Regions from separate parts of the Homo sapiens genome. Here region 2 is linked to region 1. Evidence: fine-mapped expression QTL. A gene starts in region 1. The other region holds a variant in brackets. All regions are shown on one strand. Distances are between the middles of the regions.

What was found.
Region 2: its variant is fine-mapped to the expression of STON1 in esophagus muscle (GTEx, PIP above 0.99). The same link has a PIP of 0.9 or more in aorta, caudate, cerebellar hemisphere, cerebellum, esophagus mucosa and gastroesophageal junction.

The regions. Positions count from the first base shown.
Region 1 is chr2:48,526,982-48,532,362 of GRCh38, reverse strand. It overlaps STON1 (stonin 1), which reads right to left and starts at 2,209. Exons shown (of 4, transcript NM_006873.4): 1 at 2,147-2,209. STON1-GTF2A1L (STON1-GTF2A1L readthrough) reads right to left here and starts at 2,438. Exons shown (of 11, transcript NM_001198593.2): 1 at 2,375-2,438. RefSeq lists a silencer at 1,878-2,077 and an enhancer at 1,669-2,216.
Region 2 is chr2:48,592,908-48,598,288 of GRCh38, reverse strand. All of the region lies in intron 3 of STON1-GTF2A1L (STON1-GTF2A1L readthrough), which reads right to left. It overlaps STON1 (stonin 1), which reads right to left. Exons shown (of 4, transcript NM_006873.4): 4 at 1-3,061. The coding sequence ends at 2,987. Among named protein-coding and RNA genes, the nearest start is that of GTF2A1L, 22 kb to the left of the region's middle. The variant C/T (reference allele first, on the strand shown) is at 3,047.

The sequences.
Region 1 (5,381 bases):
TTTATTTATTTATTTAGACAGAGTCTTGCTGTGTCGCCCAGGATGGAGTGCAGTGGTGTAATCTCGGCTCACTGCAACCTCCGCCTCCCAGGTTCAAACGATTCTTCCGCCTCAACCTCCCAAGTAGCTGGGAATTACAGGTTCCCGCCACCTGGCCCAGCTAGCTTTTGTATTTTTAATAGAGACGGGGTTTCATCAGGTTGGCCAGGCTGGTCTCGAACTCCTGACCTCAAGTGATCTGCCCGCCCCGGCCTCCCAAAATGCTGGGATTATAGGCATGAACCCCGTGCCCTGCCTTAATGATGTTGTGCCCTGCCTTAATGATGTTTTGAGACCACAATAAAACCTAACTGATTCATACCAATGGGGAACTGTCAAACTGCATCAGTGGAGAGAAGTGAATTACATCCTTTTTAACATAAACTCTTTTATTTCCAGTAGAATTCAAATAAAATAAAATCTTTATTTCCAAATGGTTCAATACTTGGACCTGTTTTTTAAGGGGTTGTTCAGAATCTGATCTACTACATTTGTTACAACCACATTTATTGTTTGTATGGAAACAGGAATGGCTAAAGTTTTGAGAAGTGTGTTCTTCCTAAAAACGTAAAACATTCAACATCCCCCAGCAACCATGCTCACACAGTTCGCTCCTTGGTAGAGCTTTTTCTTCCCAGATCATGTGGAAGAAAACCCCAGCTCAGGCTGCTCCCGGCTGCTCTGGTTCTGAGTGAGTGTGCAGAGGTTTGCAATATCAGCCCAGGTCAAGCCCTGAAAAATCTCTCCAGACTCCAGACTTGATCTGTCCAGACCCATCCGAGAATTAACAGGCTCCCCATCGTGCCCACAGAAGCAAGACTGTCATGGAAACACTGATTCAACCATAATAACTACTGACAGAAAAACCACACAAATGAACTAAACAATTCTTCCACCCAATCAGAGTCCAGGGGAGTCCATAGCCTCAGGATTAAAATAAGTAGGGCTGTTTTTATTATGTGGTCCAGCTCGTTTGAGCCTCTCCCATTGCCTTGTTTTCACAGCTCCCTTTTATGAGAAAGAAAGTGGGGGTGGGGGAGTTGGGAGGGAGACTAGAGCTATGCAGACGGGAATGCCAGGCTGGGAATACCAACAAACAGTGTGCTGCATGTCAGGCAAATTAAAACTTCTAGCCTGGAGGAGGCTGTAATCGTGTTTGCGGTTAGTCTGAAAACAAGCTACACTGAACTTCTATCTCCCAGGAAAACAGTCGAGTGTGGACTGAAGTCAAAAATGAGTATTTTTAGCAAGCATTCTCTCTCTTCCGTTTATTTTCTTCCTTCTTCTGTCTTTAGATATTAGAAACGCTAATTACATGAAGTATCATTATTATTCGAAGAAAGCACAGTTAGAAGGGTTAAAAATAAAAAGATGCCAAACCAACAGAAGCAGTACAATCCTAAGGAGGAATATATTTTAATTTTTCCCTGTACCCACGAGGTTCAGTTTGTGGGTCCAAGGGACCCAACCCCAATACCCAGTGAATGGTCATACCTGCAGGAAATATTTGGGCCAGTGTGGTGGCCCCCGCGGCTGTGGCCCCGTGGCCTGGCTCCTTGCCTTCCAGGGCAGGAGGGGACTCCGGGCTGCAGGCACAGGCTAAGGTCCGAGCTGAGGTACCAGGGAGCGGGGAGGGACAACAGCCCAAATAACAGCAGTCAGAAGGAGGAGGGAGTCCGGGAGCGGGAGAGAGACACAGAGACCCCGAGGGAGGCGTGAGGGGCGCAGAGCTGGTGGCCCGGGTCCGAGAGGTCGAGGGGCCGCGCGCGGGTGAGAACGAGCCCCGGCCCCCGCCCTCGGAACTGAGTCGATATTCCTTTTTTTGCTGTTTGAGTTTTCTCTTTAGAGTCGGACCCCGGTCCCAGCAGCAGTCTCAGAACAGAGGGGAGCCGAGGAGTCCCTGCCGGGAGGCCATCCCTCTGCGGGCCCCAGGGCGCCCCTGGGGGCGGCCAGGGCGGGCGCGGGGAGATGGGGAGGCGCCGAGCGGCCCTGGAGATGCCCGCGTCCCGGGGCGCCCGCAAACTTTCCCAGACACGGCGGGAGGCCCCACCCTGGAGAGGGGGGGTCCCAGGCCTCCCGTCTCTGTCCCCTGGGGCTGGTCACTCACCGGCAGCGCGGTTGGGGCTCCGATTCTGGCCGCAGCCAGCCACACCAGGAGGCGGAGGAAGAGGAGGGGGAGGAGGAGGGGGAGGAGGAGGGGGAGGAAGACCCGGGGCCGCCGAGTGGAGGGCGGGGAGGGGCGGCCGCGGCGCAGTGACTCCTCCCGCTCCCGCCCCCGCCCCCGCCCCTCCTCCCCTGCTGAGCCTCCCTTCTCTCTTCACGCCTTCTTTCTCACCCCGAATCCCCCAAAGTTTTTCTGGTGTCCGACGCTCCGTTCTCTTCCCTCCAGCGCATCTTCTGTCCCCGAGTCTCCAGCCTCCCAGAGGAGGGGAGAGCGCTCCCTCCTGCAAAAGTCGGGGGGCGGGGGCGGTAAGTCTATGAGTTACCTTTCGATGCCCTCTTGAAGCAGATAGCTTGGACCCGTGGAAGGTCTGAAGCCACCCAGCACCCCCAGACCTTGTCCTCACCTCTGGGTGGGGATGATGGAGGGCCTTTGCGGTCGTGCTTTCTAAGTTGCTTCATGGAGTTTTGTTTTGTTTTGTACCCCCCGCCTCACCCCACCCCCACCCCCCACCCCCCACCTTGTAATTAGGAGAACTAAAGAATTATATTTGAAAGGTAAAGATGAAGCCCCACCTTCCTGGGCGAATCAATCATAGCAGGAGGAAGGACACAAGATAGTTTAGTGAGGGCCAAGCTGTGGGGGTGGGGAGGAGGTAAACGCGTCCAGATGCCTCCTCTTTGCTGCCTCAAGAGTGCATGGAGAGGGAGAAGGGGCGTTGTCCTCCCAGGAGAGGCTGCAGGGTGTCTCGTAGTCCCTATTCCATCGCCTGCTGGCAAATGACTCCAGGCAAGTCACTTGGCATCTCAGCCTCTTCCTCAAGGGGGGCTGCCTCACTGGGAGCCAGTCAGAATGAAGGCACCCTCCCCACCCCTTTACCCTGGAGAGACACCAAAACCCAGGACGAGAGACTGAGCTGAGTTTGAACAGGCTCAGAGGGGAGAGAAGAGGGCATTTTAGGCCCCATGGCATGGTGCTTTGGAGGTTGGCAAGACTGGAAGGCTTAGGGTAAGTGGGCAATGTTTAGATGGGAAGGTGGAGCTGGGCATGAAGCAGAATACAGGAAATCTCTGAAAGTTTTCAAGCGAAGGTGTAGAGTAGGCACTCAGTGAATCCTTGAGGATTCAAAATGGCAAATAAGAAATATTGGTTTAACAGTCCTGTAGGATGGACCACCTAGGAAGAAAGGGGTTGCATCCAAAGAGAGGGGTTAGGAGGCCCCGGTGAGCATCTCAACTTGAAGTACTATGCTGGAAGGTGGAAAGGCAATGAATTATTTTTTAATCGTAAATTTCCTTGAGGAGCTGGGCTAACTCATAGGCAGTGCACCCAGGGTTGGTGAAAATCAGTGGACACTTCTTTGTATTTGCACAGCAGTGTAATTCTTTTTTAAATGTTCTGTCAGGTGTAGCCTTGTTTTTGACCTTGGAGTTCGCTGGTGAAATGGAAATATAGTCAGTACCCTATTTGACCTCCAGCCAGTGTTAAGAACCTGCCCTCGGGGCTTTGAGGAAGGAAACTGACGTTCCAGGAGGGCACTCCTCGAGCGCCTGAAATCACACAGCCAGGATCTATTTAGGATACTTTTATTCTCAGATAAAACTACTAATTGTGCTTATGCTTAATATATCCTAAACACAGAAAAAGGCACTGGTTTCTCCTCAGCTTCTCATTTCCTCCAGCTACCTTCCAGTAATGGTTAAGAGTTGAGGAAGGGCAACTTGCCTAGGGAAGAGGAGAGCCTAGGGAATAGGAAGTCAACTGACTGGCTGGTTAACTTGTCAGAGATTGTTCCATGGAAACAGACAGGTACTGGACCCCTAAGTCAGGCTTCTGGTAAGGAGCTGAGAGAAGTGGAGCAAGAAGGACACAGGAAGCAGGAGGAGGAGGAACGGAAGAAAAAGAGAAGGGGCAACTCTTTGTTGTCCTCATGCTTTGACCGCAGGCATTTTGGGGTCCCCAAATTGAACCCCCAAATTGAACCTTTTTGGTCCTGTATCCAGCCCACCTTTCACCAGTGGGTCTTCCACAGAGGCCAGCTCATCTCAGAAACTGCCACAGCTAACTGGAGACAGGACTCATGCAGGAAGCAACGACACATTTGACAAACAGTAATCATCATTGCATTTACAGAGTTCTGTATGCACCTTTTAAACTTTGTCATCTTTGAAAGAAGCAGTATGGCCTTTATTAGTGGGTAGCCACCTGGTGAAAGAAATCTCTTTTGGAAACTCTGACACTTCTGCAAAGCAAGGATGCCCATAACTTTCTAAAGACTAATACAGTTGGTTGAAAACCATTTTGTCTTTTGCAAAGGACAGGCCTTCCCCCTCTGTGTGATTCAGCATTGCCCCAAAGGTTGCCAGTTTCATGAATGAAGATTTATTTCTTGCAACTCCACCATGTATTTCCAAAGGATCCTTTCTGGTAGTGTCCCTTTGTATCAAAATCTGGTGGTAAACAGCTTAGCCTGGCCTCAATAGCTAAGCCACCACAGCCGTTCATCACAGCTGTGAGCTCATTTTACTCCAGTTACTGTTCTTTCTCTTGCTTTACAATAAGTAGACCCTCAAACTATGTCATTCTCCTTTTTATTAGCAGATTTCTCTTTCCTGGCAGTTTTTTCATGGAAATATTTAGAACTTCCCAACTGTTTAACAAGAGATCCCCAAAGTATCTGTAGATATGACCTAATAGATTAGCTTGGAATTCCTCAAAACTCATGTCAGCTGAAGCTGTCAGGATCATTTAATATACATCCAAGGGGAGGGACACACTGAGAACTAAATGCTTCGTAGGAACATTCCTCTCTAAAAACTTGGCAACAGCAAATCTCTGTTTACATTATAACACTCATTCAAACTACAGCTTTTTGGCTGGGCACTGTGGCTCATGCCTGTAATCCCAGCACTTTGGGAGACTGAGACAGGCAGATCACCTGAGGTCAGGAGTTCAAGACCAGCCTGGTCAACATGGTGAAACCCCATCTCTACTAAAAATATGAAAATTAGCAGGGCGTGGTGGTGGGCGCCTGTAATACCAGCTACTCAGGAGGCTGAGGCAGGAGAATCACCTGAACTCAGGAGGCGGAGGTTGCAGTGAGCCAAGATAGCAACACTGCACTCCAGCTTGGGCAACAGAGCGAGACTCCATCTCAACAAATATTTATATTTTTTATGTA
Region 2 (5,381 bases), 66 kb before region 1:
CCTAGAACTGTCTAATATATACATCAGGTTGTAAAATTCCAGCCTTTATTTATGTGCTGGAAAGTATCTTTTTTACATATCTTTTTTTAGTGGATAAACTCTTGTGATTCCCACAGAAAAAGGAAATGTTCTTAAATTCAGATCTGCACAAATCATCTACCCATGAATTCATTTACACAGTTAATATGATCCTGTAACTGGAAAGGTGACCAGACTAGTCACAAACTGGTCAACTCCTTGGAAGTCTGCTCATTTGACTCCAAAATGGTCAAACTCACAATGGAGTGATCTAAGCAAAATGAATGCTAGAAAGGAATATTTCCTCCCTCATTCCTTTCCTTCCCCGCTTCCCTCCCCTAAAAGCAAGGGTTTTTTGAAGATCACTATTCCGGCAAGGGCAGTTCTACTTAATTTGAACCCTACCTGATTTTTCACCTAGAGTTCTGTAGTCACATCTGACCTTCTGCCAGTTCTGAGGTCAGAAGAATTGAATAAGCCTCCCCTCCCTACACAGAATGTTAATTTAACATTAAGTAATGAATATTTAAGGATCCTAATAGATGTGCGAATTAACAATTATGCTGTAACACCCTGCTGTTAATGCTATCAGCTTCTGCATTGCCACAGACAATCCATTTGGGCTTTAGTCCAGCTTTTGCTATTATATTGTCAAGACTGAATCTTGAGATGTCCTGAAGGCCCGGTGGCTTGTGAGTGAATAACCTGGGCAGGGAGGTACCCACAGATACTAGTCAACCTGTGAAGCATGAGGGGCAACTAAGTGAACCCTTTGCTGAATATATTTTGAGGTGTAAATAGTCATTAAGTTCATCCTAATCAGACTGTGAGTTCTTTGTGGGCAGGATGCCATAAAACACACTTAGAAAGGAATGGCAGTAATTAACCCACCTAACTTCACTGGGACTGTGGGCAGCATCAGTTTCGGCCGGCCTCCACATTCGTTCTGAGCAGACTGAAGTCACTGTAGAGTGCGCCCACACCAGATGATAAAGAAAGATGGTAGAATTTTTTTAATGACATACACACACAGATTTGCCCTACTCTACATCAACAGTGAGCCTCAAGCATATGATATTATAAGCAAGGCATCAAATGAAGTTAAAAAGAGCAATAGCGGCCGGGCATGGTGGCTCACGCATTTAATCCCAGAACTTTGGGAGGCCGAGGCTGGTGGATCACCTGAGGTCAGGAGTTCGAGACTAGCCCGGCCAACATGGGGAAACTCCGTCTGTAGTAAAAATACAAAAGAATTTTAGCCAGGCATGGTGGCTTGTGCCTGTAATCCCAGCTAGTTGGAGGCTGAGGCAGGAGAATCCCTTGAACCCAGGAGGCGGAGGTTGCAGTGAGCCAAGATGACACACTGCACTCCAGGCTGGGCAACAGAGTGAGACTCTGTCTCAAAAAAAGTAAAAAATAAAAACAGCAATAACAATTCCTTTCAACCAACCATCACCTATTGCATTCTTTGCCTTTACAGTAAAATAATGAAAAGCAATAAAATCTGCTGATTGATACAGACCATCATAAATGTTTGTCTTAATCTGTTTTTGAACAGATTTCAATGAATGTAATATAATATTAAATATTAAAAAAAACACATGAAATAAACTCTGTAGGCCAACACATAAATGTTGTTTGGAAGAACACTAAATCAGTTTTGACTCAAAACAAATCTAGCAAATAGAGAAAAATATCTCCTAATTATGTTTAAGACTCAACATAAATTGAAGGTATATTAATACCACATGGGGGAGTTTGTTTTTCAGACTAAAAACAATACCTGGAATATAGATTTCATAAATTTTAAAATTCTCACTTTTCACTGTAAATGCTGAAAGGAAATTATAAACAGAATTATAACTGCTAATGCTATTGACTTTTCATTAGAAACCAAACTATTATAGTCATTTACCTGACTCTGAAGAATAAAAATGTTGCCACTTAGAAATCTGGGTAAAATACCAAGTATCTTTCACTTTGCTCACCTTTTAATGAAAAATACTCTAAAATAAGCAGAATTAGCATAAAACAGCATGATAGCAGAACTAGTATAAAATAATCATAATGTGATTTAGACTTCTACTCAAGAGAGGCTTGTGTTCATTACAAATAATACTTTATCAAAATATGTCCTTAGAGTCTGTACTTTTGGAAAATAGTATTTATAAATTTTAAAAATTCATATTTAATATACACAAATATGTTAACTAGTGTCTAATACTCAGATTCCATTTTGAAAGGAATCCTGCCAAGTGAAAGGAAATATGTCTTAGTGATTTATACTAAAATATGTAGGACAACAGAAATAGCTTCTTTGCAGCACGCGCCAGAAAACAAACACATTTTGAAAATGACAATACAGTAGGAGAGAGACAGGTACCAAATATAGCCAATTATTATTTACCAACGGTAAGAGGACAGGTAAATAAGTAATTCAAAAGCACAGATACTTCCAGATCTACATTTTAGCCTGTGGTTTCAACATCATTCTACACCTAGCCACATTTCAGAGGCAAGAAAGAGGGAAAATTAACTATTTTGGTTTATGTCTCCTTTGATTCCCTTACCCTCTAGTACAGACACTAAGCAGCAAGAAGAGATGGGAAGAAATGAAGACGGCACCTCAGTAATCCAGAGAGCAAAACAGTCAGCCACTGAGTAATCAAAAATCATACTGGCTGCGGGGTCACACAACGAGTAACAGTGCCTTTGAGTTTCAATAGGAAGCAAAACATCACACGAATTATAGAAACATTTTAGATCGAACCCCTAGGACAAAAACACATGAAAAGCAAAAAATACAGATTGTTCGGTTTTAGGTCTAAACTTCTCTAAACACAGCCATCAGACCTGTCCTAAAACCGCTATTCAGAAGTCATTTCCACTCTACAGTAGCAGGACTTGGTGTGGTTTCGGTGAATTACATATTTGACAAGTGGGCTGTCATCATAAACTCTTGCTACTCCTACTGAGTTATGCAGTCACCAATTTTATCTGGGTCTTCTCCATCGATTTTAATCCACTT[C/T]TTTTCTATTTCAACCTGTTATGCAAAAGCAAAACACAGGCAGCATTAACAAATGCAACACAGCACTCACACCTCTTCAGTCCTATTTTATACATGTGGCACAGACTGCACAAACCTCACCCTTTGGACACAGACACAGCCCTCTACCCTCCTACAGTAGCTTCCAAGTGAGGCGCTCTGCTCTCCTTTTGAACAACAGAGCCCCTCAAATCCTCCCCGCCAGGGTCAAGTCTTCAAGAGCACCAAAACTGTCTTCTAAGTCAAACGTAGTTTTTATAAAATGTATACAGAATATGTATACTGAAAAAAAATTTACAGATCTGACTAGACATATGATCAATTATCCCTCTACCTGAATATATGGCTGTATCATGTATCTAGCCATTGGCCCCCTTAAGATTTATAATGCACCCAAAATTATCTAATTGAAACAAGCCATCTTACAAACTATTAGGTTGCTGCAAAACTAATGGCAAAAACCGTGATTACTTTTGCAGCAACCTAATAGTAAACCATCTGCTCTTCATCATTTTTGTCTCAGCTCAAATGTCACATCCTCCTGGAGGTCCTCCAGGACTACCCCTGATAAAGCCCTCCAGTCACTCTCTATCCCGTTACCCTATTTTATTACCTTCTTGGAATTTGTTATTAGTTGAAATCATATTTATTTATTTATTTATCTACTAACTATTTTTCGTTTACCCCCACTAGAAACTATGCTCCATGAGGACAGGGACTTTGTCTCTCTGTTCACACTGCTGTGTCCCTGCATGTGGAGCAGTATCTGGCAACAGATAATTACTAAATGGAAGAAAACATTTTGAAACTGCCACCAGGTGCACATCAACTAGTAAATGCTACTAAAGCAAGAGATACTTTGTAAAGTAATTTTTAATTGTCCACTAAAATTGCATGAACCTGGCATGCCCTGTGAATAGGAAAATAAGTATAAACACAGTCTCCATGCCACTTGACCCACATTTCAGTCACACATAATATATATATACCTAGTGTTATAGGTCAGGTTCCCCAAGAAATAAACTCTGAGATGGAGATCTGTGTGCAGAAAGTTTACTGGAGAGTGCCGTTGAGTTCAACATTCATGGGGGAGTGAGGCAGGAAATGAAGCTAAATGGGCAGAGAGAGAAGCTGGGATGCAATGTAGTCAGAATGAAGGCTTCTGTCCATGCCCTGGAGAGCTGAAGCTGGGCTGACCTACAGCGTTAGCCCAAGTTGATGCAAAGGGGCCTATACACCCCTGCATAGATTCCAGGAAGGAGGCATGACCTCAGGAAAGGCAGCTATCTTCAGCGGCGGCAATTCCCACCTGCTGGGGAAATACATCCTTCAGGTCTGAAGGGGCTGCACAGGACAGCACTACCTATCATTACTTTTATCAGTAGAAAAAGATAACTGGACCCAAACATAGACTTCTAAACAGATAGTCCAAAATAAAGAAAAATCCTGACTCACATTACTATAGTATAGGAAACCCAGTTGATATTAGCGATGTCATGTATAATATCACTATTTTTAATAGAAATAAATTAGTAGAAAATCAGAATGGCATTAATCTTTGCTGCAAGTCAAGCAACACATAGATTTTAAAATGCTATTTGAGAGGCACATGTTCTCAGGACCTCCTGAGGGCTGTGTAACAGGCAAAATTTAAATTTTTAAAAATAAAATAAATGCTATTAGAAATTATAAAATGTTGCTCATGTGAAAGACAGAAGGGAAACATACATTCTAAACTGAACCACCTGTCTGTAATGCACTATTTAATTTTTGTGATTTTTGAAATATTTTCTAGTTAAAAATACTTTTAGGCCAGGTGTGGTGGCTCACACCTCTAATCCCAGCACTTTGGGAGGCCGAGGCAGACAGATCACAAGGTCAGGAGTTCGAGACCAGCCTGGCCAACATGGTGAAACCCCATCTCTACTATAAACACAAAAAATTAGCCAGGCGTGGTGGCAGGCACCTGTAATCCCAGCTACTCGGGAGGCTGAGGCAGGAGAATTACTTGAACCTAGGAAGCGGAGGTTGCAGTGAGCCGAGACCATGCCACTGCACTCCAACCTGGGCAACAGAGCAAGACTCTGTCTCAAAATAAAGAAAACCTTTTAAACAAAATCAGCAAGATGCATCACCATTTCAAGATACTGTGGGAAATATGTGGCAGGAGACATCCATATATCTACTAAACTTGAGGATAAGAAGGGAAAACAAGTTTAGAAACAGATGTAAGTGTATGTCCTCCTTTAGTTCATCTGCCTAAGAATGCAGAAGAGCTGATGGCAAACATTTAAAACTACCATAATACCAGGCTGGA